Linked DNA regions of Homo sapiens. The protein of the gene in region 1 purifies or fractionates together with the protein of each later gene. This does not show direct contact. Each region holds a gene or a part of one and is shown on either strand. Other genes may lie near its edges.

The links.
Region 2: the proteins of BFAR (region 1) and ALDH9A1 purify together in Homo sapiens (affinity purification with mass spectrometry, with the first as the bait; one large-scale study listed by BioGRID). This does not show direct contact.
Region 3: the proteins of BFAR (region 1) and SERGEF purify together in Homo sapiens (affinity purification with mass spectrometry; one large-scale study listed by BioGRID and IntAct). This does not show direct contact.
Region 4: the proteins of BFAR (region 1) and CASP10 purify together in Homo sapiens (affinity purification with western blotting, with the first as the bait; one study listed by BioGRID). This does not show direct contact.
Region 5: the proteins of BFAR (region 1) and PHYKPL purify together in Homo sapiens (affinity purification with mass spectrometry; one large-scale study listed by BioGRID and IntAct). This does not show direct contact.

What each region holds. Positions count from the first base shown.
Region 1 is NC_000016.10:14,646,285-14,650,075, reverse strand, and holds part of BFAR (bifunctional apoptosis regulator), read right to left. Parts: intron 1,689-3,791; coding exon 1,484-1,688; intron 273-1,483; coding exon 103-272; intron 1-102. UniProt on the Homo sapiens protein: Membrane-bound E3 ubiquitin ligase that plays a role in several processes including apoptosis regulation or reticulum endoplasmic stress. Has anti-apoptotic activity, both for apoptosis triggered via death-receptors and via mitochondrial factors.
Region 2 is NC_000001.11:165,674,484-165,678,274, forward strand, and holds part of ALDH9A1 (4-trimethylaminobutyraldehyde dehydrogenase isoform 1 precursor), read right to left. Parts: intron 1-3,791. UniProt on the Homo sapiens protein: Converts gamma-trimethylaminobutyraldehyde into gamma-butyrobetaine with high efficiency (in vitro). Can catalyze the irreversible oxidation of a broad range of aldehydes to the corresponding acids in an NAD-dependent reaction, but with low efficiency.
Region 3 is NC_000011.10:18,009,997-18,014,284, forward strand, and holds the start of SERGEF (secretion-regulating guanine nucleotide exchange factor), read right to left. Parts: upstream 3,052-4,288; 5' UTR 3,015-3,051; coding exon 2,955-3,014; intron 1-2,954. UniProt on the Homo sapiens protein: Probable guanine nucleotide exchange factor (GEF), which may be involved in the secretion process.
Region 4 is NC_000002.12:201,199,906-201,203,696, reverse strand, and holds part of CASP10 (caspase-10 isoform 1 preproprotein), read right to left. Parts: intron 3,255-3,791; coding exon of another isoform or gene 3,195-3,254; exon of another isoform or gene 2,968-3,194; intron 1-2,967. UniProt on the Homo sapiens protein: Involved in the activation cascade of caspases responsible for apoptosis execution. Recruited to both Fas- and TNFR-1 receptors in a FADD dependent manner. May participate in the granzyme B apoptotic pathways.
Region 5 is NC_000005.10:178,212,248-178,216,038, reverse strand, and holds part of PHYKPL (5-phosphohydroxy-L-lysine phospho-lyase), read left to right. Parts: intron 1-608; coding exon 609-763; intron 764-1,153; coding exon 1,154-1,243; intron 1,244-2,023; coding exon of another isoform or gene 2,024-2,174; exon of another isoform or gene 2,175-2,929; intron 2,930-2,935; coding exon 2,936-3,066; intron 3,067-3,791.

The DNA.
Region 1 (3,791 bases):
TGCTGGGATCCAGGTGTGAGCCACCGCGCCTGGCCTGGATTATATCTCAAGAAAGCTGTTTTCTAAAATGTCCACGGTGTGTCAGAAGACTTTGCTCCTCACCTTCCATTTACTCGTTCAGATAAAAACCTTTCCCTGTAAAGAGATGCCCAAGGGCCCAGCTGCTCCAGCCAGAGGACAACTTCTTCCGCCGTCCATTTGGCCACAGCCTTGTGGACCAGGAGGTCGTGTTCAGATTCCCTGCTGCTCCAGTGATAGACGAGCAGGACCACCTGGGGAAAAGTGACAGGGACTTTAAACCATGGAGAGGCAGAGATGCCAGTTTCTAAATATGCGGGTGGGAGGTGGGGAAAGGAAGAGGCTGAGCTCACAGGGAATGATGCGGAGCCCGTACACAGAAGCAGGGCAACAAAAGCAGGGCAACGCCACGGCCACAGAGAACTGGGGACCACAGCTCTCCTCGGGTGCCTCTCTCTGCTGATTGCGTGGCAGTGAGGGCACAGAGGCGAGAAAAGGACTTATCTCAGGCACCTGGGAGCAGGTGGTGCCTTGACTCCATCAACTTGCTCAACATAACTGACTTGTGCCTTTTCTACTGGAAAAACATTTAGATTTTTTATGCACAGAACTTTAAAAGAAAATAGTCTCCACATTGGAAGTTAGTAAACTGGTGGGTTCTTAAGACTGTATTACCAAGGAGGTCCAGGCGTGGTGGCTCACGCCTATAATCCCAGCACTTGAGGAGTCTGAGGCGGGTGGATCACTTGAGGTCAGGAGTTCCAGACCAGCCTGGCCAACATGGTGAAACCCCATCTCTACTAATCACACAAAAATTAGCCTCTTGTAGTGGCGCATGCCTGTAATCCCAGCTACTTGGGAAGCTGAGGCAGAAGAATCACTTGAACTCGGGAGGTGGAGGTGGCAGTGAGCCGAGATCATGCCACCGCACTCTAGCCTAGGCAACAGGGCAAGACTTCATCTCAAAAAAAAAAAAAAAAAAAAAAAGAGCAAGAGATGTAATCCACATAAAATTCACACATTTGAAGTGCACACAATCCACGGTTTTTAATGTGTTCACAAATATGTGTCATCATCACCACAGCTGGTTTTAGTTCATTTTCACCACCCTAAAAGAAAGTTTTTACCTAGATCGCACCACTGCACTCCAGCCTGGGCGACAGAGCAAGAGTCCGTCTCAAAAACAAAACAAAACAAAAAAAGATTGTATTACCAAGGCAGACATGGTCTTGAATTCCAGTTCTACCACCTTTCTCCATTTACTAGGTACTATGATCTGATCTACCTGAGTAAGCAACATTCCTGAGGAAATCATAGAACCCAGCAGATTTCAATGTACGTAGTAAATTACATGGAGTCACATCATCAATTATTTCAGTGATTTCAACAGAACTGACTTCAGTGGAAATCAGGGGTCGGGGGGTGAGGTGTGGGGGGGCACAGAGGAACACAGTGATCAACTTACTGCCACTCCAGTTAAAGCTGTGAGCACACCGGAAAAGAATCCCCCTCCCATCTGCTGATTCGCTCGGCCTGTGTTAGGAGCTAAAGGAATCTGATCATTCCCATATTTCTGAAAGGCTGCAAGACTTTGGACTATGTCATTATTCTGCTGAATGTCTTCAAATCTCAGTCTAATGGCATCAGGAAATAACTTTTCAATGGCATCCCTATGGAGAATAGAAAAAAAAAATTAAGACAGTTGTTTGACTAAATATCATGTTTAGAGGCCAAAAAAGCCCTGATAGTCAACATCTAATAATATATAGCTACCCTAGGAGAACTGACAAGAAATGTATTATAGTCCTGTGGGTAAAAGCAAAAAATCTGAAATAATCTATTAGGTTGTTTACCATTACTTTCTCCTTTTGTTTTTTTGAGACGGAGTCTTACTCTGTCGCCCAGGCTGGAGTGCAATGGCGTGATCTTGGCTCACCGGTGCACACCACCATACCCGGATAACTTTTTTTTTGTATTTTTAGTAGAGATAGGGTTTCACTATGTTGCCCAGGCTGGTATTGAACTCCTGAGCTCAGGCAATCTGCCCACCGGGGCCTCCCAAAGTGCTAAGATTAGAGGCATGAGCCACTGCACCCAGCCTACCATTACTTTCAATGGTAAAAACTGCAATTACTTGTGCACCAACCTGATGATATACATTTACTACTAGGTAAAAGGCTAAATGAAATATGGTATATTCATACAATGAAGTATCACAATTTTAAATGCATTTGCTGGATCACTAAATGTGTCAAGGTGGAGAAATTTAAGACGTACATAATTGATTTAAAATAGTAAACTGCAGAACCATGCAGAGAGCACATCAATGATGTGAGAAAATACTTGCATTTTCTATTGGCACTTGTTTTTTTTTTTTTTTGAGACAAGAGTCTTGCTCTGTCACCCAGGCTGGAGTGTAATGTCATGATCTCAGCTTACCGCAACCTCCGTGTCCTTCAAGTGATTCTCATGTCTCAGCCTCCTGAGTAGCTGGGATTATGGGCATGCGCCATTACACCAGGCTAATTTTTGTATTTTTGGTCATGTTGGCTAGGCTGGTCTTGAATTCCTGGCCTCATGAGATCCGCCTGCCTCGGTCCTCCCAAGGTACTGGGATTACAGGCATGAGCCACCGCACCCAGCCTGGCACATGTATGTTTAGAAGTATTTTTAAGCCGGGCGTGGTGGCTCACGCCTGTAATCCCAGCACTTTGGGAGGCCGAGGTGGGCAGATCACTTAAGGTCAGGAGTTCCAGACCAGCCTGGCCAACATGGTAAAACCCTGTTTCTACTAAAAATACAAAAATCAACCGGGTGTGGTGGTGGGCGCCTGTAATCCCAGCTACTTGGGAGGCTGAGGCAGGAGAATCGCTTGAACCTGGGAGGAGGAGGTTGCAGTGAGCTGAGATCGCACCATTGCACTCCAGCCTGGGCAACAGAGCGAGACTCTGTCTCAAAAAAGAGTATTTTGAAAAATCTGAGGCTGGGTGTAGTGGCTCACGCCTGTAATCTCAGCACTGTGGGATGCTGAGGCAGGAGGTTCACTTGAGCTCAGCAGTTGGAGACCAGCCTGGGCAACATAGTGAGACCTGATCGCTACTAAAAAGTTAAAAAAAAGTATTTAAAAAAATCTGAACAAAAGCACAACTAAGTCATAACTGAAATTATTCTAAGGAAAAAGGAAAGGATTCTAAGATGGGAAAATAAGGGGTCAAAAGGATCTTTAGTTTTATCAGTAATTTTCCAATATTTTAAAAAGAGGCTGGGCGCGGGGGCTCATGCCTGTAATCCCAGCACTTTGGGAGGCTGAGGCGGGCGGATCACCTGAGGTCGGGAGTATGAGACCAGCCTGACCAACATGGAGAAACTCTGTCTCTACGAAAAATACAAAATTAGCCAGGCATGGTGGCACATGCCTGTAATCCCAGCTACTTGGGAGGCTGAGGCAGGAGAATCACTTGAACCTGGGAGGCGGAGGTTGCAGTGAGCCGAGATTTTGCCAATGCACTCCAGCCCGGGCAACAAGGGTGAAGCTCCATCTTAAAAAAAAAAAATTTTAGCTGGGCATTTGGCCAGGCACAGTGGCTCACGCCTGTAATCCCAGCACTTTGGGAGGCCAAGACGGGCGGATCACTAAAGGTCAGGAGTTCGAGACCAGCCTGGCCAAAACTGTGAAACCCCGTCTCTACTGAAAATACAAACATTCACCAGGCACGGTGGCTCACGCCTATAATCCCAGCACTTTGGGAGGCCAAGGTGGGCGGATCATCTGA
Region 2 (3,791 bases), on another chromosome or scaffold:
CGAGACCAGCCTGGCCAACATGGAGAAACCCCGTCTCTACTAAAAATACAAAATTAGTCAGGCGTGGTGGCACATGCCTGTAATCCCAGCTACTCAGGAGGCTAAGGCAGGAAAATCACTTGAACCCAGGAGGCGGAAGTTGCAGTGAGCTGAGATCGTGCCATTGCACTCCAGCCTGGGCAACTAAGTGAGACTCCGAATCAAAAAAAAAAAAAAAAAAAATTAAAAATAGAACCATCCTATGATTCAGCAATTCCTCTTCTGGGTATATACCAAAGGAAATGAAATCAGTAGCTTAAAGACATATCTGCACTCCCATGCTCAGTGCAGCATTATTCACAATAACCAAGATAAGGAAATAACCCCATTGCCAGATGAACGGATAAATTGTGATACATATTTAAAATCACACTGGGCATGGTGGCTCATGCCAGGCGTGGTGGCTCACGCCTATAATCCCACACTTTGGAAGGCTGAGGCGGGTGGATCGCCTGAGCTCAGGAGTTCAAGACCAGCCTGGCCAACATGGTGAAACCCTGTCTCTACTAAAAATACAAAAAAATTAACTGGGTGTGGTAGCGCATGCCTCTAGTCCCAGCTACTTGGGAGGGTGAGGCAGGAGAATCGCTTGAGCTCCAGGGGCGAAGGTTGCAGTGAACCAAGATCGTGTCACTGCACTCCAACTTGGGCTACAGAGTGAGACTCCATCTCGAAAAAATAATAATAATAAAATAAATTCACATTACGTCACAATTATTTTTAGTGCTCTCTCTCTCTCTCTATATATATATAAAGTATACATAGTACAGATTATGTAGAATATTCTATATATTTATTCTATATATTCTATACTATATGTATTCTTTGTGTGTGTATATTCATCCACACACACACATAGCAAAGAAAGCAAAGTACAAAAGAGTACCTCTAATGTGCTACCTTTTGTGTATGAAAGAAGAATAAGAAATATACAAGTACCTATTCATTTGTGGAAAAAGAAACACAGGAAGCAAAAACCAGAAACAAATCAGACTGGCTACCCACAGGAGATGGACAAAACTGGGTGGGAAGGAGGCACTGGAAACAGAGTACACAGGATGGGGAGCAGTAACACTTCTGAGTATCTGTTTTTGTAAAATTCTGATGTTTAGAACCATGTTTGTGTTTTGCCTAATCAAAATAAAATTTTAAAATCAGCAAGGATGGGGGAAATAAAACCCAAATGAATACAAACACAAACAAATGAATCTGTTATTTTAAATGAGTATCATAACCACACTGAAGGAGGGTGAAGGAAAGGTAGAACTGACCCAAGTAACTTTTGAACACAGTATTCTGACTATACTCTCACGCTGAATATAAAAACAACTGTAAAAAAATTCTGAGCTCTAATTAGAAGGTTTATTTTCCACAGAGGTATGGATTTACAAATCTGAAACTACTATTATTAGAATACTAAGTGTATTCTATGATGAGCAATTAGATAAACATTGTGGATAATGGGAGTCAAATTTCTTACTGTCAGAGAACAAATACAAATATGGAAAGGGAGAAGGCAGAAATGAACCCTGTGGTATTAGACTATAATTAAAGTATCTGGATGAACTTATTATTATGTAGACAGACAGATACAGAACTAGATATGTGCACAGACATATATACAAACATGTATTTCCCAGCACTGGCCTCTGAGAGGGCCTAGAAGCAATGATACACCAGTAGCAACAAGCACACCTGGCACTCAGATCTTGGTTTCTAAATACCATTTACCACTAAATGGAACCAGGGCTTTTGGTTGGTACTGCCGTCTTCCAGTAATTCACCAAAACGACAAACACAGGGAAAGAGAAGAATTACCCAATATATGTTCTCTAGGCCTTTTAGAAAACATGGAGTTGTTCCTTGGGCCACGTGCATGCAAATCTATAAGAAAGGCAATACTGTAGACATCAAGCGAACGGGTACTATTCAAAAAGGAATGCCCAAAAGCATTACCTGGGAAAAACTGGAAGAGTCTACAATGTTACCCAGCATGTTGTTGGCACTGCTGTAAACAAATTAAGGGCAAAATTCTTGCCAAGAGAATTAACGTGCACATTGAGCACATTAAGCGCTCTAAGACCCAAGATAGCTTCTGAAATGCATGAAAGAAGATGATCAGAAAAAGAAGGAAGCCAAAGAGAAAGGTACCTGGTTTCAGCTGAAGCACCAGCCTACTCCACCCAGGGAATCCCACTGTGTGAGAACCAACGGGAAGGAGCCTGAGCTGCTGGAACCTATTCCCTATGAATTCATGGCATGATAGGTATAAAAAAATAAAAGACCTCTGGACTGCAAAATTGTTTCTCTTTATTTAGTAGAGAAGTGTGGTGTCCTCTCCCCCAAAAAAATATTTAAAGCAGATTTTAATTGTGTCCTAACTCATTGTGTAATGTCTTTACTGTTCAGACTTAGTATTTTTCTTGCTGAAAGATGTGAGGTGGCTTATCGTGCAACAAATTACTCAACTGGTTAGAAAACAATCAGATATTATTTATGAAATACTTGTACTGGTTTGAAGATAGTCCTTCTAAATCATAAAAAAAAGTTTACAAAAAATAAAAAACAGGCCGGGCACGGTGGCACATGCCTGCAATCCCAGCACTTTGGGAGGCCGAGGCATTTGGATCACTTGAGCCCAGGAGTTCAAGACCAGCCTGGCCAACACAGTGAAACCCCGTCTCTACAAAAAATACAAAAATTAGCTGAATGTGGTGGTGTGCTACACTGGAGACTGAGGTGGGAGGATTGTTTGACCTTGGAGGGGCCGAGATTGCAGTGAGCCAAGAAAGCACCACTGCACTCCGGCCTGGGCAACAGAGCAGGACCCTGTCTCAAAAATTAATAATAAACAGATAAACAATAATGGAACCAGGCCTCCTTCAGAGAAATGGCTGGTTCCAGAGCACAGCCAGGGGAAGTATGAGTCTGGAACACTTTGCTATGCCAGAAAGTAATGAAGTATTCAAAGAATAATGAGGGCATATCAAAAGGTCACGGAAAGGGATTCCCACCAGCCATCTGCAATTATTTTAGCATCAAAATAAATAATGAGGCTGGGTACAATGGCTCATGCCTGTAATCCCAGCACTTTGGGAGGCCAAGGCAGGTGTATCATGAGGTCAGGAGATCCAGACCATCCTGGCTAACATGGTAAAACCTCATCTCTACTAAAAACACAAAAAATTAGCCAGGCGTGGTGGCGGGTGCCTGTAGTCTCAGCTACTTGGGAGGCTGAGGCAGAAGAATGGCATGAACCCAGGAGACAGAGCTTGCAGTGAGCCGAGATCGCACCACTGTACTCCAGCCTGGGCGACAGAGCAAGACTCTGTCTCAAAAAAAAAAAAAAAAAAAAAATTAGCCAGCCGTGGTGGCACACACCTGTAGTCCCAGCTATTTGGGAGGCTGAAACAGGAGAATCACTTGAACCCGAACCCAGGTGGTGGAGGTTGCAGTGAGCTGAGATCGTGCCACTGCACTCCAGCCTGGGTGACAGAGTGAGACTCCGTCTCAATAAAAAAATAAAATAAAGGCCGGGTACAGTGGCTCACACTTGTAATCCCAGCACTTTGGGAGGCCAACGTGGGTGGATTGTGAAGTCAGGAGTTTGAGACCAGCCTGGCCAACACAGTGAAACTCTGTCTCTACTAAAAATACAAAAATTAGCTGGGCATGGTGGCGGGCACCTGTAATCCCAGCTACTCAGGAGGCTGAGGCGGGGGAATCGCTTAAACCTGGGAGGCAGAGGATGC
Region 3 (4,288 bases), on another chromosome or scaffold:
GAAGACAAGGGATTGTGGACCTGCAGAGAGAATCTTACTAAGATTTCAGAAATCTTTATAATTTATTCAAGTACCTACTCCTAGCTGGTTCTTCCTGGAGATGAGAAGTAAAATCTTTTAAATATGTTTGTTTTTGAAGACACCTGAATGAGGAAAGGTGATGTAAAATAATTACAACAAATACATATATACATACTTACATACATACATACATAATCCTTCCCCTTGTAGTCTATTTCACAGCCATCCTGGGCTGCAAGGACTCAAAGATGGAAGAGTAAGCCATAGCAGGGGCATAAGTCCCAGAAGCCCACAGGGGGCAATATTAGCTACCAATTACTGAGTGCTTCTCTCCATACTGTGCATTCACCTTTAATCCTCACAACAACTAAGAAGGACATTATTACTCCCATTTCACAGAGGAAGAAACTAAGGCTCAGAGAGGTTAAGTAACTTTCCATAGTTATATCTGGGTAGGCAAAAAGTCTGATGCCCTGCACCTTTTACTATACCTTACTGTGTCTCTTAGAAAAAATAAAAAAAGGACATACAGTGAAGCAGCCCAGAGCTTACCTGACAGGTGGTTAACTGTATGACTTTATCTAAAAGAGCATCCCCATATCACTCATTTTCTGCTTTATTTTTCTTCATGCCACTTCTTGATGTTACATTATATATGACTACTTGTTTACTGTACACCACCCCTGCCAGAAACTAAACTCCAGGAGGGCAGGAACTCTGCTTTGCTCACTGCTGTTTCCCCTGCATCTGAAACTGTGCTGGCCCAAAGAAGATGTACATATATTTATATGGCGAATGAATGTAAGACCCTATGAAAGACTTGCTCAGCATGAAGGGGAATATAGAGCATATATGCACAGGATTTCTTGGTCAGCCCTGAGATCTCCGTGGCTGTCCCATTACCAGGGGTGCAAGGCTGCTGAACACCTGGGAGAAAAGTAACATGACACATGGGCACTCTGAGGTTCAAATTACGGTACCAATTTTTGTAACACTGTGAGAGGCCCTAAATCCAGGATAAAGCAAGACGAAGGGAAATTTAACACAACCTATTACAACTGTTGTTTGCCTTTCTTCCTCACAAACACTCCAGACATATCACACGTGCACATGCACACATACACACACACACACACACACACACACACACCCCTAACAAGGTAAATCCCCTTCCTGTGAACCGAACTTTATTCCCCCAAAATTCACGTGTTGAAGCCCTAACCTTTAGTACCTTACTGTATTTGGAAAGAAGGCCTTTAAAGGGGCAATTAAGGTTAAATGAGGTCATAAGGGTGGGGCCCTAATCCAATATGACTGGTGTCCTTAAAAGAAGAGACACCACGGATGCTCACGCACACAGAAAAGGCCATGTGAGGACACAGTGAAAAAAGCCATGTGAGGACACAGTGAGAAGGCGGCCATCTGCAAGCCAGAGAGAGGCCTCGGGAGAAACCAAACCTACTCACACCTTGATCTTGGCCTTCTAGCCTCTGGAACTGTGAGAAAATAAATTTCTGTTGTTTAAGCCTCTGTTGTGTGGTATTTTGTTATGGTAGCCCTAGCCGACCAACACACCCCCACAGTTTCAGATTATACAGCAGGAAAAACACACTACCAGTCCTCCAAACACAGCAGAAGGGTGTCAACAACCTATTAAACATATTTTACAACCTTTAATATTCGGCTTTGTCTGTACTGAAACAATATTTCTGTTTCCTCTGTCCACACAGACGCCAGTCTCCTGCCTGGAAAAAGCCAGAGACAGCACACATTCAATCCCCAACTCCACCCCCAGCTCCCGGGCCACCTCAAAGACGCCCAGCCAGCCAGACTACCGCAGGTCACGCCATGCTCTCCCTCCTGCCAAATTGCAGCCCCACATTCAACAATTGCCGCCTTGTACTGATCATTACTTCTTTAAAAATTGGACAACTAATACTGATTTTAACAGCAATACAGGTTATAATTTTGCTCTCCCCCAACACAAGAGCTGGAAGTCCTTCACTCGTGTATTTCACTCATGTGTATTTCCCCAACACCAGCACATGGGTAGGCACACAGATGCTCGTTCATTCATTCGTCAACGAGTATTTACTGGGGACCTACAATGTGCCAGACACCAAGAGAGGCACCGTGAACAAGACAGGCACAGCACCCACTCTTACCACACTTACTTTCCAGCCAGAGAGACTGACGTTAATAATAAATTATACACATCATTACAATTGTGATACGTGCTATGAAGAAGCACAAGACGCAGCGACTGCTTGTTCCCGTGCATGCTGGTCGGCCACCTGCCACGCTCCTGTGCATGAACCCTCCTCTCTCCCAGACACACATCAAGATGACCCTGTCTCTCCCAATGCTCCCGTCAAACCAACAGCAGCCCAACTCCCCCAACACATGCAAGAACCGGTCACAGCAGAGTGTCAGCAAATAGGCAGGGTCTGTGCCTTGTGCGCGGCCAAACACCGCAGGCCTCACATCTAAAGGATGCTTTCGCCAGGCTGGGACAGGGTCTCCCTCCTCCAGGCATCAGGAGTGTGGGGGGCACAGGTGGCCCCACGGAGCTCTGGGACCGGGCGATCCTCTCCACCGAGCCCTCCGCGCTGTCTTCCAGGCGCTATTCGGGCTGGAGGGCTCTCGCGGAACCAGACGCTCTGCCCCGAGGCAGGTTCTTCCCGCGGCGCCACAGCCCCTCCGGCCCTGACCCCGCCAGCCGGCAGGCCCCTAAGTCGACCGCGAAGACCCTTCCTTCCCCGCCCGCCCGCTCCTCCTCCGCTCCCCCTCCGCTCCCAGCCCAGGATCCTTCAACCCAGAGCCCGGCTCGGACCTCAGCCGCCCAGCCCCTGAACTGCCCACGCCGCGGCCAGCAGCTCCCACATCTCGGCGCCCCTCAGGGCCTGCACCGGCCCGGGGGCGGAGTCACGTACCCAGGCGAAGAGCGCGGCCGCCGCGGGGGCGGCCTCCGAGGCGCTGGGCTCGCGCTCCATGCGAGGACGCTCCGCCGGCGCTTCCGGGAGGGACGGCACGGGGGCGGCGCCTGCCGGGGGTAGGTGAGCGCCGGAGCCGGACCGGGGACGCGTGATGGGTAGGGCGCGGGGCGGGGTCTGTGGTGGGAAGCGGCCCGCAGGCCGGGAGAGAGGGTGCGGCCGGGCCCTCGGGCCACTGGGGATCAGTGGTGGGCGGGGCCGGACGACAGCCCCGGAGCCGCCTCCCAGTCAGCCCGCCCCGGCGGCGCTCGCAGCGTCTCCGCCCGCAGCCTCCTGTCTCGCTGGGCCTCTCAGCCTCTCGCTCCTACCCCCTCGTACTCTTTATTTTTAGTCATAATTTCATGTTTCATGCAGGTGCACTGCGCGCCACAGTTCACAAAGCTCCTTCGCGTTTTTGTCTCCTTGGAGGCCCACGACAGCCCAGAGGGGCTGACAGGGCAGCGATGGCATCACCATTTGCGGGAACAGGAAATGGAGCCTGAGGGGTAGGGCAGGGTCCTGCCCGGCGTCTCAGGCGCAATTGTCTTGAGCCCGCTTTGGTGTGCGTTCGCAAACATCTGAGGGGGCGCCTTGGGAGGCGAGTGGAGTGGCACGTCGCCGGTGTCGCCCTCTGCACCTGGCACGGAGCGGGAACCCGCGCCTCGCGACGCTGAATGGGGGAGGCTGGTTAGCGTCGACTCCTGCCGGGGCAGCCTCGGCGCTCCGGGCACGGCCCTGAGCTCATTCTATTAATAATACTGGATAATCGTCACCCAACGAACATTTCCATATAAAATGGCTTTTCTCAGACAGCGTCGTGTTGCTGATGGGAGTTAATTAAGTTCAATTTATCTGAAGGAAAATATGGCACCGCGTACCGGGAATACAGAACACATAGGGTCACATTAAAGATGATCATCCACATTCACATTCGGTAGCACTTGGCCCCTCTGCTGACACGGGCCTCCAGCACTCACTGCCCTTCACCCCTGGGCTTCTGGGAAGTGTCTCCAATGAGCTCTTACACTGTCCTTTCCTGTTCTTTCACTCCATCCACTTTTAGGAGTTTCTGCCTGTAAGACCACTTGAGGGCAGCCCCTCACCTTTATCTCTCCAACCTGTGGCATCTGGAGAACGTCGATGACCATACCAAGAAAAAAGCAAACTTTGGAGAGATAAAACAGCTCTTCATTCTCTAGGGATCTGAATGTGCAGGAGCTATACCATGCTTACTGACTGTCTTATGAGTGGGCTTTTTTGTGCTGACCATTTCTTTGAAGCATGTGTAACAGGAT
Region 4 (3,791 bases), on another chromosome or scaffold:
GAATTTCACACAGTTAGGATGAGGAACAAAAACTAGACTTGATGCAGGGAAGGACAGATATCTAATCCACAGCCACAGAAAAGGTCATTGGGCCGGTTGCGGTGGCTCATGCCTGTAATCCCAGCACTTTGGGAGGCCAAGGCAGGTGGATCACCTGAGGTCAGGAGTTCGAGACCAGCCTGACTAACATGGTGAAACCCCACCTCTACTAAAAATAAAAAAATTAGCCGGGTGTGGTAGCGCATGCCAGTAATCCCAGCTACTCAGGAGGCTGAGGCAGGAGAATCACTTGAACCTGGGAGGCAGAGGTTGCAGTGGGCCGAGATTGCGCAACTGCACTCCAGCCTGGGTGACAGAGCAAGACTCTGTCTCAAAAAAAAAAAAAAAAGAAAGTTCATTGGCAGGAAATGGGAAGAGAACCAACTCTCTCCATCCAAAGGAGAAGGTTCACAAAGACGCACTGGCAAAAATACAGTGTGACATATGCTCAAGGGTACTTACTCATTGCAGCATTATTTACACTAAGGACTGGAAATAGCCTAATGTCCACCAATAGGAAGTGATTGAAAAAGCTGTGGTATGTCCACATAGTGGAGTAAGATGCCAAGGACAGCCTCTATACCCTTCTCCAGGGGATGCTGTCATATGGAGAAAGCAAAATGAAATGGTATTTGAGTGCACTACCTCTTTTGTAATAAAGGGAAGATATACGTTGGATTTTTTTCAAAAGTAATAAGATAAATCAAAAAACAAATAAAAATGGCAATCGAGGTGGGGAGGAGAGGCAAGGATGCACTACCTTGGGCATACATTAATGTTTTATATAATTAAATACAAAATTAAAACAAAGTCTAAGACCCTGTCTTTTCTGTACCCTCCTCCCCATTCACCATCACCCCCTTCCCCCTATGACTCTCAGCCGTCAGCCTTCAGCAGAAAGCCCCCAAGGGGACCTGACCAAGGTGTTGGGGAAGAGCTGTTCCCCCAGCTCTGCAGGAACAAATGCAAAGGAGGCTTAGCTTCACTTTCCAAAAGGCTTCCTGCCTTTCTTTTCATAAGCCACTGTTCCCTTCCTGTAGAATCCTAGATTTCTTCTAAGAGGCAGACAAGGGCCTGGCCAGACTGCCTTCTGGTTTTGTCCAGCAGTTGAGTGAGTCTTCTGGGATTAGGGGCAATGCAGACACAGCAGCAGGCTCTGCCCAGCCCCTCCAGGCCCTGGCTTTCCTTGATTTGTTCTTCCCTTGGCTGATAAAGTCAGCCAGAACAGGGACTAGAAAAAAGCTTTAAGGTCTAATCTGCCTTTCTTCTCCCGAGAATGTTGCATCCTCTGTTGACACCTCTCAAGTCTCTATGTCAGAGAGGAATGAATGAATGAATGAGTGAATGTCCCACAGCCTGGCCACACTGAATCATCTTTCAACTTCTTTTGATAGTTTTCAAGAGGGGTCCAATAAGGCCTTATAAAGAAGCAGGTGTTAGGTCTCCTCCATAGAGAGACATGCCTCTCCTTAAGAAAACCTTATGCCACACTCAAAAAAATCGATTTGGCCGGGTACGGTGGCTCACGCCTGTAATCCCAGCACTTTGGGAGCTGAAGCAGGTGGATCACCTGAGGTCAGGAGTTCGAGACCAGCCTGGCCAACATGGCGAAACCCCATCTCTACTAAAAATACAAAAAATTTGCTGGGTGCGGTGGCACGTGCCTGTAATCCCAGCTACTCAGGAGGCTGAGGCAGGAAAATCACTTGAACCTGGGAGGCTGAAGTTGCAGGGGGCTGAGAAAAAAATAAATTTAATTTTTAAACATATTAGGAGATGTTGCTTAAAATTCGATGAGAGTTCCTTCTCATTGAGCCCAATTATTGGCAGTGTTCTTTTAAATTTAAAAAAAAAATCCTCAGGTGCTTAAGAAACATGAGATGTTTCACCAAGTTTTATTTTATTCATCATTTGATGGAGAGGGAAAGGGCTGCCCAGATAACTTTTAAGACACCTTCCAACCTTAAAAGTCTGTGAAAACACGTGAGATGCTGTGCCCCAGTCCCCTTTGCACTTCTAGTACTGCCACGACTATCCCCCTACTGCATGTGCCGTGGCCAAGTTATCATCCCACGTCAGCGGAACCACAGCGCTTCAGAGGCCACAGCTGAGCCATGCCCCTTTAGAAACCACTGAATTTCTCAAAGACAACGAGCAGAATCGTGTGTGTGTGTGTGTGTGTGTTTCTACATGCATGTCAGTATCTGAGCACAAAACAAGTTGAAAAAGTGGGTGGGAAGAGTTACATTTAGCAGACAATTTAACTTAGAATTAGGGAATCCTAAAATGTCAGTGCTGGAAAACCACATTTTAAAGAGCTTCTGGGATGGCCATGCACAATAGCTCATGCCTGTAATCCCAGCACTTTGGGAGACTCAGGAGGGTGGATCACCTTAAGTCAACATGGTGAAATCCTGTATCTACTAAAAATACAAAAAAAATTAGCCAGGCATGGTGGCGGGTGCCTGTAATCCCAGCTACTAGGGAAGCTGAGGCATGAGAATCATTTGAACCCGGGAGGCTGAGGTTGCATTGAGCTGAGATTGCACTCCAGCCTGGGTGACAGAGCGAGACTCCATCTCAAAAAAATAAATAAATAAAATAAAATAATAAAGAGCTTCTGGGGGAGCGGGGAGGTGGGAATGGATTTGCAACTCTCTAAACAAAGCTGTGCCCATGGCCAGGGAGTTGGCCCATAAATGTTGCTTTAATTGGATTATAGTAAAAGAATCAAGGGGAGCAGCCTCTCTCCCTCAATACCTCAATCAGATATCTAGGCGCTTTTCTAGGATTGGAATTAATTGAATCAAGGGCTATTTTCCTAGAGAAAAGAAGCCAATTTAAGATTTTATAAATAATTGCAATTCTGTGTTATTTCCCATTGGGGGAGATGGGGAATTCAAATGAATAAACTCACAGCAAGCAGGCGGAGGTGTTACCATTTCTTTTAATTAAGGATGTACTTAATCTCTTAAGATCACTTACAAAGTGGCCTCCCAAAGCTGAGATTCCCTCAAATGCCTAAATACCTCCACCTGCCGAATGAGGTTCAGGGCAGAGCCGAAGAGCAGGCCTCTCCCGGCTCTGTGTCATGTCCTGATTGCCTGCATAGTCTTCAGGTGGGCGTTTGCCCAGCCTTTGCCAAGCTCCAGGAGCTACAGGTCATCTGGCGAGTTTCCACGGTCTCCTTCATTTAAAAAAACAAAAACACCTTCCTGGGGAGAAAGGAGGGTCCTTCTTTACAGTAGAATGCTGAGAGCCAACTTACGAATGTGGAGAGAATACTGGAGTCAGAAAAGCATTGTTTTACAACCAACATAGTAAATGCTGGATCACACAAGAATCATCAGCAGACGCTCAATCTAGGGGGAAACTTTTCATGTGCAGCAGGATATTTACAGAATCTTAAAATGTCTCTCCAGCACTTGCTTATTAATTGCGTGGGGAAAAAATAGTAACTATATAAAATTAACTGCAGAGTGATAATATCAGAAAATATCTTGACCAAATAATCAAAATTAGCATCACGAATAGGGGGGCAGATGGACATGACGTATTTCCAGATGGGATGCCCTGAGAAAGACACATCACTTCTGTGATATTCTGGCCAGAACGTACAGCTTGAATCTAATTATGAGGAAATACCACATGTACCAAAGATAAGGAAAATTCTATTTAATGAAAGGTGGGAGGAGTGACTGCATTCTTCAAAAGTCTCAATGGCATAAAAGAGGAAATTAAATGTCATAAAA
Region 5 (3,791 bases), on another chromosome or scaffold:
TTATATATAAATTATACCTCAACAAAGCTGATGTTTTTAAAGATGTAGTTTAAAAACGAAACAAAAAACGTGGTTTGCAGGAGACACCTTGCTCGTGATCCTCTAAAACACAGGTCTCCACTCAGATACCTGCAGGATGAGGACAGGGTGGGCGAGGGAAAGGAGCCAGAGCCCTCCAGGGGTGTGAAGCAGCTTTTCCTGGGTGGGGCTTGGCGTGCTGCGCTCACTCTCCCTGGAGGAGGAAGTGCCTAATCCAGTCCTCTGGGTCTGGGCCCAGGAGATGGGGCCTTAAAGCCTCTCTTGGTAAAGACTAGCCCTGTGGGAACAAACAGGACACCCTCTCCTCTGATTCTGTATCTTCTAGGGGCTCCTACTGTACTTCAGGGATACCTGACCTGAGTTGCAGTCACATTAGCTCCTGGAAAGCCAGGACAGCCCATGTTGAACCCCACTTACTACTGCTGAGGACTGTGCGCCCTAAGGGGTTTGGGGCCTCTGCTCTTGCCACTGGCCTTGGAACACGTGTGGCAGTTCTTCTGCCTCACCCTCACTCTGGGGCATGGCCCACTCTGCCAGGGCATCTGACATGTTCTTTGTCCCTGGCTCAGTTTGGGGGCAGCCCAGTGTCCTGCGCTGTGGGGCTGGCCGTCCTGAATGTCTTGGAGAAGGAGCAGCTCCAGGATCATGCCACCAGTGTAGGCAGCTTCCTGATGCAGCTCCTCGGGCAGCAAAAAATCAAACATCCCATCGTCGGGGATGTCAGGTGAGGCTCTGGGGGCAGCAGTCACCACCCACCTGCCAAGGCCCAGTGTGGTACCATTTTCTTCACCTCCTAACAACCTGGGATGGTGGGGTTATGTCCGCTCTCAAGAGGAACTGAGACACTGAGAGGTGCTATTGCCCAAAACGGCTCTCCTGGGGAGGAGAAAGCTAGGACATGACCTGATCCCTAGCTACCCCTGAGCCTCTCTCCTCTGTCCACACCAAAGATCTCTCCCAGCCCAGTTATTCCCTGAAACTATTCTCACCACCTTCTGAAGGTGCCTCCTGCACTCAGCCCCCTCAGGAGGCACAGGTAGGAGCCCAGAGGCTGAGGCCAGCACCCTGGCCCCTCAGGCCTGGCCTCCTGAGATGTCGTCACCTTCCCTTGCAGGGGTGTTGGGCTCTTCATTGGTGTGGATCTGATCAAAGATGAGGCCACAAGGACACCAGCAACTGAAGAGGCTGCCTACTTGGTATCAAGGTATTTTCTTCTTGAAACAAGTTGCTTCCTGGAGTAGGAGACACCACAGGTACCTCTTTGCAGGGCCAGTGGAAAGGAGCCTCATCTGTACCCCCAGCACTCTGGGCCACAGACTTGATTGAAAGAGGGCTGGGGCTGGCGGGTGGGGGCAGTTGTTGGGGGACAGCTGATCCTATCAGCTGAGGACAGAGATAAGTGGTGTTAGCAGTTCTGTACCCAGTGCCTGACTACAAAGGCTGCAGATGAGACACAGGCTATTCCCAGACCAGAGCAGCACCTCTGCCTAGAATGCCCAAGCTAGCAGGGCACTCAGACCCAGGAACCCCTAATGCCACCTTGGCCTGGAGAAGGGAAACACCTTCTCTATTCATACCAGGGAGCTGTGGCAGCACTAGACTCAGGGTTCCCATGCCGCACGACAGGTGGTTGGGATGGACAAGACTCCTGCTCCTAAGCTGGGTCGGGGGTGTCTCAGAACTCAGACTCCACCGGTCCCAATGCCCTGGTTTGCTTGTCCTTTCACTTGGACCCCAAGTCCTCAGGACTTCTTCTCCTTCTAGTTGAATTGTTATTCCCTTTTATCTCCATTCCCCAGGCCTACCCCTTCCCCCACGCCCACCATGGAAAGCTCTTCTGGTATTTGACGTGTCCTTATTCAAATTGTGAGACACGCGTGGTATTGATGTAAATCTCTGTGCTGTATTTGAACTTGGCCTTTCCTGGTCCCGCCTTCTCTCTGCTGTCAGTCACATCCCCAGCTTACTCCTACCCCCCTCCCAGGAGCCTCAGGGATTCGGAATGGTCAGGTGGCATGGAAGGAAACAGATCCCAAGTTCAGCCCGTGTCTCACAATACCCTGGGGGTGCTTTTCCAGTTCAGTGAGGAAATGGGTAAGTCACCTGCAGTTACCCTGCTAGGTGGCAAGAGCTAGATCTGGCCCCAGGGCCGTCTAACTCCAAAGTCCAAGCCCTGTTCTTTCTGGCGTGGCCATGGTCAGTGCCAGGAAGACTGGGACAGGAAAATGAAACCAGAAGGCACACTCCCCACCCCCAAGAAATAAAAATAACAAGGTTTACAAAAGAAGGGGAACAATGATCAAAGAATATAAACACAATCATGCAGACCCCTCATCTCAGAGATGAGGTTAGACTGTGGACTAAAAGTGATTATTAGCTACAAATGATGTTAAGATAAAGCCATCTTCCTAAGAATAATTGGACATTTTAAACTGGAATTGTAAGATAACCCGGAAGACAGGGCAGGAAGATGCCTGAAGCTGGTGAGGGGCACGTGGAGCTCATTACACCAACTGCAATGTTGGACATTCTCTATATAAGGAAACAATATACATCACGTAAACCACACAGAAAACCAGAGAATGCAGGTGACTCTTGCAGTCTGGCGTTTCCCTGTGGCCATTCATTCTTGGCTTGGACTGTGGCTCCAGGGTTAGGTGAGGCAAGGTGCCTGTTCTGTGGGGCAGCAGGCTCAGGGCCAGGTGCAGTGCACTCCAAGCAGGCTGCTGTGGGCCAGATGCACAGGACTCTGGGAGAGGTGACCAGTAAAATGACCTGGCAGGAACTGGCCCATGGAAGGCTCTGAGGACAGTGTGGCTGGAGCACTGGACATGAGGCCAAGGCCAGGCTGAGGAAGGCCTTGAAGGCCATGTGAAGGGGTGTCCTGTCCTCACAGGCTGAAGGAGAACTACGTTTTGCTGAGCACTGATGGCCCTGGGAGGAACATCCTGAAGTTTAAGCCCCCAATGTGCTTCAGCCTGGACAATGCACGGCAGGTGGTGGCAAAGCTGGATGCCATTCTGACTGGTGAGCTTGAAGCCTGAGCTTGGCCATATCTCTAGAACTCAGCCTGAAGCCAGCAACTAGAGCCTCCTAGCATGGAACAGGGAGGGGACAAGAGTCCAAGAGCAGAGGCACATGTCCTCTGGACAGGGCAGGGAGCAAGAGAGGGTCTTTCATGGCCCAATCTGCTCCTATTCCTGCCTGTACCTAAGAGAGCTTCCTGGGCTGTCAGGAGGTGGAAGGTGAGCCACCACCCAGCCTGCCTGAGCAGGCATCAGATGTATGCAGGACAAAGCAGTACTGGGCCTGAGAAACAGGCCATAAGAACTACAGTGGGAGTTGAGACCCCATTACCGCCAGCCTAGGATGTAGAGATGGCAGGAGTTTCATTCTGTACATGAGACAGGTCACACAAGGCTGCTGGGTGGCTGAAAGATTGGTACCACTGAGGACTGACGGAACTCAAAATGAAAACTCTACCCCACATTCCCCATCACCTAGGATGGTCGTGGTCAACCCAGGGTTCCCCCTAAATCCACTTACAAGGAAATCTCATGGCTGTGTTGCCATTTACAGCTCAGTGAGACCCTAAATAGGCACAGTTGCATCTCACAGTAGAGATCACAACTGCCAGCCAAGCAACCTGTGCCCTCCTACCTCTGGGTGATCACTGCTACCCACAGGTATGCTTAATCCCAGGGCTCTGGAGCTGGGGGAGGCCCATCCCTGCTAGACACAAATTGGAAGTG